Homo sapiens: one gene and its partner. The protein of the gene in region 1 interacts with the protein of each later gene in a biochemical or structural test. Each region holds a gene or a part of one and is shown on either strand. Other genes may lie near its edges. The genes, in order: MAP3K11 and RHOG.

The links.
Region 2: the proteins of MAP3K11 (region 1) and RHOG form a complex in vitro, tested with the Homo sapiens proteins (one study listed by BioGRID).

Annotation. Positions count from the first base shown.
Region 1 is NC_000011.10:65,597,195-65,600,997, reverse strand, and holds the end of MAP3K11 (mitogen-activated protein kinase kinase kinase 11), read left to right. Parts: intron 1-1,229; coding exon 1,230-1,604; intron 1,605-2,369; coding exon 2,370-2,707; 3' UTR 2,708-3,241; downstream 3,242-3,803. UniProt on the Homo sapiens protein: Activates the JUN N-terminal pathway. Required for serum-stimulated cell proliferation and for mitogen and cytokine activation of MAPK14 (p38), MAPK3 (ERK) and MAPK8 (JNK1) through phosphorylation and activation of MAP2K4/MKK4 and MAP2K7/MKK7.
Region 2 is NC_000011.10:3,828,399-3,830,959, reverse strand, and holds part of RHOG (rho-related GTP-binding protein RhoG), read left to right. Parts: intron 1-2,561.

The DNA of each region.
Region 1 (3,803 bases):
TTGTCCCTTCAGTGGCAGTGGCCGGGGTGGGAGTTGGGTGAGGTAAGAGGCAGAGAGTCTGAGTAAGGGTTGGGGCTGACAGAAGGGACTGTGAGCTAAGTCCTGGTTCATAGTAGAAGCTCATTTTTCCCAGCCTTGTATTTCTCCCTCCCGACATCCAACCTGCTGCTGCACTCCAGGCAGGAGGGGAAAGGCAGAGGGACAAGGCCAGGGAGGGCTTCAGAGGACCAGCCAAGGAGGCCAGACTTTCTCCTAGTGACAGTGGAGAGCCACAGCAGTTTCTAGAGCCAAGGAGGGATCTGACAAAATCAGGGCTTGTGAGAGCCCATCCTAGAGTCCCTTGTCCTTAATGAGGGGTTCCCCATCCCTGCCCAAGTGGTCTAGAATGGAGTCAGGCCAACCCTAGACTGGAAGGTAGGACACTAGTGTCTTGAAATCTAGGGCAGAGTCTGGCTGGGAAATGGTGGAGAGCAAAGGTTCTACTGCCCTTGCCTGGGGTGAGGCCGGCTCCACCTTTCACTGGCTGTACAGCTCCGCACAAGCCCTCAACCTCTCTGAGCCTGGAACCCCTGGGGCATGAGAATCAGACAACATAATGCCCCTATGCCATTCAGCTCAGGCCTGGCACAAATACATACTCTGTAAATTAGCTGTGACCTTGGGCAAGGTACTGACCCCTCTGAACCTCATTTTCCTCCTTTCTAGAATAGAGACAGGGATTTATGCCCTCAGGGCTGCCATGTACCTTAGAGTTGACTGTGTGCATCTTATAAGCTACAGCTGGAGCGGGGGTGGGTGGGCAGAAGGGGCAGGGCTGCCAAGCCAGGAAGCTGGTGGGCACAGAGCACAGGGCGCCGGTCCCAGTCAGTGGGACCTGCCATGCCCCTGGGCCTGGAGGTTGCCCCTGGCAGGCCACAGAGGCCCACTGTGACCTGGCCCCAGCCTGCCTCCACTGGGACTGCCCATCCATCTTTCGGGTCTGGGGTCGCTGGCTGCCATTGGGCTTTGCTGCCGCTTCCTCCACCTGCACTGCCCTCCCCTCCCAGTGCCCATCTTGTGAAAGGCCAGAATGTGGGTATGTGATGGGGAGGCCATGGGACCTGTGGGACCAGGGAAGATGCTAGTAGAGGGCAGAACTCAGTCCTTGTTCCAAGACCACGGAGAGGTCTTGGGCCCTCACCCGGAATATGCACCAGCCACACCCTCACCTGTGCCGCCTCTGCCCGCAGGTAACCCCCCGCGGCCTAGCCTGGAGCCCGAGGAGCCCAAGAGGCCTGTCCCCGCAGAGCGCGGTAGCAGCTCTGGGACGCCCAAGCTGATCCAGCGGGCGCTGCTGCGCGGCACCGCCCTGCTCGCCTCGCTGGGCCTTGGCCGCGACCTGCAGCCGCCGGGAGGCCCAGGACGCGAGCGCGGGGAGTCCCCGACAACACCCCCCACGCCAACGCCCGCGCCCTGCCCGACCGAGCCGCCCCCTTCCCCGCTCATCTGCTTCTCGCTCAAGACGCCCGACTCCCCGCCCACTCCTGCACCCCTGTTGCTGGACCTGGGTATCCCTGTGGGCCAGCGGTCAGCCAAGAGCCCCCGACGTGAGGAGGAGCCCCGCGGTGAGTGGCCTGAAGCCGGCCTGCTTCACATATGGGAGACGGGGGTTCCCAGGGAGGGAGGAGTGGCTGGTGGGGACATGCAAGGAGGCAAGGCCGAGACCACAGTCATCAGCTGGACCCTGAACCAGGCATTCGGGGTACTGAAGACGCATGTAGGGAGCAGAGTTCTAAGTTCAGCTATCAGGTGGTCCAGGCAGGTGGGGGCGATGCCTGCTGTGAAATAAAAGAAGTAATCGGGCCAGGCAGTGGTGCACGCCTGTGATCCCAGCACTCTGGGAGGATCACGTGAGCCTTGAAAGGTTGAGGCTGCAGTGAGCGGTGATCATGACACTGGACTCCAGCCTGGGCGACACAGCATACATGTAATCATAATCGTAGCAAACTCCTGGCTCCTTACTTGTGCCAAGTACTGTTTGCAAGGCTTTCCCGAGATGGTCTCATTTAGTCATAACAACCAGAGAACTAAGCGCTCCTGGATGCCCATTTTTAGATGAGGAAATTTAAGGCACAGAGATTAAGGGACCCACAGCTCCCACAGCTAGTAAGTGGCAGGGCCGGGATCCACATCCAGGCCAGCCTGCTGCAGAGGCCTCACTCCTAACTATTACAAAAAACAGAGGCACCACGGAGCAGGAAGGGCGGTGGAAGTTGAGTCAAGTAGGTCACTGTGCACATGGGGAAACTGAGGCCCAGAGCAGGACAGTGTCTTGGGGACCTCAGCAGTTGGGGGTTGCTTGACCCTGTGCCCCTCCTATATCCTCACAGGAGGCACTGTCTCACCCCCACCGGGGACATCACGCTCTGCTCCTGGCACCCCAGGCACCCCACGTTCACCACCCCTGGGCCTCATCAGCCGACCTCGGCCCTCGCCCCTTCGCAGCCGCATTGATCCCTGGAGCTTTGTGTCAGCTGGGCCACGGCCTTCTCCCCTGCCATCACCACAGCCTGCACCCCGCCGAGCACCCTGGACCTTGTTCCCGGACTCAGACCCCTTCTGGGACTCCCCACCTGCCAACCCCTTCCAGGGGGGCCCCCAGGACTGCAGGGCACAGACCAAAGACATGGGTGCCCAGGCCCCGTGGGTGCCGGAAGCGGGGCCTTGAGTGGGCCAGGCCACTCCCCCGAGCTCCAGCTGCCTTAGGAGGAGTCACAGCATACACTGGAACAGGAGCTGGGTCAGCCTCTGCAGCTGCCTCAGTTTCCCCAGGGACCCCACCCCCCTTTGGGGGTCAGGAACACTACACTGCACAGGAAGCCTTCACACTGGAAGGGGGACCTGCGCCCCCACATCTGAAACCTGTAGGTCCCCCCAGCTCACCTGCCCTACTGGGGCCCAACACTGTACCCAGCTGGTTGGGAGGACCAGAGCCTGTCTCAGGGAATTGCCTGCTGGGGTGATGCAGGGAGGAGGGGAGGTGCAGGGAAGAGGGGCCGGCCTCAGCTGTCACCAGCACTTTTGACCAAGTCCTGCTACTGCGGCCCCTGCCCTAGGGCTTAGAGCATGGACCTCCTGCCCTGGGGGTCATCTGGGGCCAGGGCTCTCTGGATGCCTTCCTGCTGCCCCAGCCAGGGTTGGAGTCTTAGCCTCGGGATCCAGTGAAGCCAGAAGCCAAATAAACTCAAAAGCTGTCTCCCCACATGTAGCCTGTCACCTTTCTTGGAGGTAACCAGGTGACCCAACCTATCATACAACCCTGGTGTCCTGATGCCCCAACAATAGGCAGTTGGATGCCTTGTACTGCATGCCTCTCCTGGGACCAAATCCACCAGCCTTGGTCAGTCATTCAAGGCTCTTCTCGGCCAGGTGCAGTGGCTCACTCCTGTCATCACAGCAGTTTGGGAGGCCGAGGCCGGCGGATCACATGAGGTCAGGAGTTCAACCTGGCCACATGGTGAAACCCCATCTCTACTAAAAATACAAAAATTAGCCAGGTGTGGTGGTGCATGCCTGTAGTCCCAGCTACTCTGGAGGCTGAGGCAGGAGAATTGCTTGAACCTGGAAGGTGGAGGTTGCAGTGAGCCAAAATCACGCCACTGCACTCCAGCCTGGGCAACAGAGCAAGACTCCGTCTCAAAAAAAAAAAAAACAAAAAACCATAGGCCGGGCATGGTGGCTCACGCCTGTAATCCCAGCACTTTGGGAGGCCGAGACGGACAGATCACAAGGTCAGGATTTTGAGACCAGCCTGGCCAATATGG
Region 2 (2,561 bases), about 62 Mb from region 1:
ATTGACCACCAAGAGTCCCCCATGGCCAAGAGGAAGTAGCTGATGAGAGAAGGATCCTTGCCATAGCAGTGTAAATAATCACAGGGTTTCTGGAAGCTGTGTTCCAGAACTCAGAAAAGCAGTTCATCTCCCCGAGGCCCTGTGACCTGCAGAGGTAACCAGATGTTGGCTGGAGCTGGGACTCCTCATACTTACCCCACTCATAAATACAGCAGTCCATTTATTGGGCACTTGCTATGTGCCATACCTCATGCTGGACATCTTCTATACATTATTAACTCTTACTTTTTATTTTTTTTTTTTTGAGACAGGGTCTTGCTCTGTCGCACAGGCTGGAGTGCAGTGGTGTGATCATAGCCCACTGCAGCCTTGACCACCCTGGGATCAAGTGATGCTCCCACCTCAGCCTCCCGAGTAGCTGGGACTACAGGTGTGTACCACCACACCCTGGTAATTTTTTCATTTTTTGTAGAGTCAGGGTTTTGCCATGTTGCCCAGGCTAGTCTCAAACTCCTGGGCTCAAGCGATCTACCTGCCTCATTCTCCCAAAGTGCTAAGATTACAGGCATGAGTCACCGTGCCTGGCCTCATTTCATATTCTGAGCAATTGTAATGCAATAGGCAAGATTATCCCCATTTTACAGATGAGAAAATTGAGGCTCAGGGAACAAATATATTGCCAAGATCACATATAACTAGTTGGTGGAGCTGTGATTAGAATACCTGCGAGTCTTACTCTAGCATCTATGTTCTTAATGATGGTATTTTCTATCCAAGAGTCTGGAAGTCTCTAAAATCTTTCAGAGGCACATGCCAGGATCTCAGGAAATGGACAGAAGATTGAGGGGAAAGTCAAGTTTTTGTCTTACTCTTGACTTCATCCTTCCTAGTTGGGCCTGAAAGATTTGCTCCAGGCCGGGCATGGTGGCTCATGCCTGTAATCCCAGCACTTTTTGGAAGGCCAAGGCGGGCAGATCACAAGGTCAGGAGTTCAAGACTAGCCTGACTAACATGGTGAAACCCCGTCTCTACTAAAAATACAAAAATTAGCTGGACGTGGTGGCATGCGCCTGTAATCCCAGCCACTCGGGAGGGTGAGGCAGGAGAATCGCTTGAACCCGGGAGGTGGAGGTTGCAGTGAGTCAAGATTGCGCCACTACACTCCAGCCTGGGCGACAGAGCAAGACTCCGTCTCAAAAAAGAAAAAAATTTGCTCCACCCCACCAAGGGCCTTGAGAGAAGATACTAATGTCTGGGAGCCTCAGCCTCTACCTCATTCATCATAACATACCCAGACCCCAGTCCAAATCCCAGGTCCAACTGAATCTCCAGTATTCCCCTGCATTGAATTGGCAATCTGAGTGTACATGGCCAGATAGGGTTTTCAGTACTTACAAGAATGATGGGGTGGCCAGGTGTGGTGGTTCACGCCTGTAATCCCAGCACTTTGGAAGGCTGAGGCAGGTAGATCACCTGAGGTCAGGAGCTTGAGACCAGCATGGCTAACACGGCGAAACTCCATCTCTACTAAAAATATAAAAATTAGCCGGATGCAGTGGCACCTGCCTGTAGTCCCAGCCACTCGGGAGGCTGAGGCAGGAGACACTTGAACCCAGGAGGCGGAGGTTGCAGTGAGCTGAGATCACGCCACTGCACTCCAGCCTGGACGACAGAGTGAGACTCCATCTCAAAAAAAAAAAAAAAAAAAAATTTCCCCATTGCCAGAATACCCTGGATTGGGATAGGGCAGCTCTCTAAAGAATTGAGCCCCTTACTCAGCAGGTTTCTTAACTGTGCCTTTGGGTTTGTACTCAGTAGCCAAGATACCAGGTTTGGAGAGGGCAGGGTGGGCCCTGAGTTGAGAGAGGTTCTACTTATGGCTGCATCACAGAGTGACCTGGGACAGCTGTCCTGTGCCAAAACACTTTCCAGTCTCCTGGTGGAAAGGGTCCATATTTAGTAGAGGATCTAGTAGATCCCTAAATTTGTGCACTCTCCTTTTGTGTCTGTATAGCCTGGAAAAAAAAAATAGCTAATACTGGCCAGGCGCAGTGGCTCACGCCTGTAATCCCAGCACTTTAGGAGGCCAAGGCGGGCGGATCACGAGGTCAGGAGATCGAGACCATCCTGGCCAACACGGTGAAACCCCATCTCTACTAAAAATACAAAAAATTAGCCGGGCGTGGTGGTGGGTGCCTGTAGTCCCAGCTACTCGAGAGGCTGAGGCAGAATGGCGTGAACCCAGGAGGCGGAGCTTGCAGTAAGCCGAGATGACGCCACTGCACTCCAGCCTGGGTGACAGAGTGAGACTCTGTCTCAAAAAAAAAAAAAAAAAAATAGCTAATACTTGTGGACGAGGCACTGTTTTAAATGCTTTACATGTATTATATAATGCTCACAATGACCCAGTGAGGTAGATATTATTTTATCCTCATTTTACTGGTAAGAAAACTTAGGCATACAGAGGTTAAGCAATTTTTTCAGGGTTACACAGCTAGGAAATAGCAAAATCAGGATTTGACCTTAGTTTGTCTGGCGCCAGAGTTTATGTGCTTTCTACC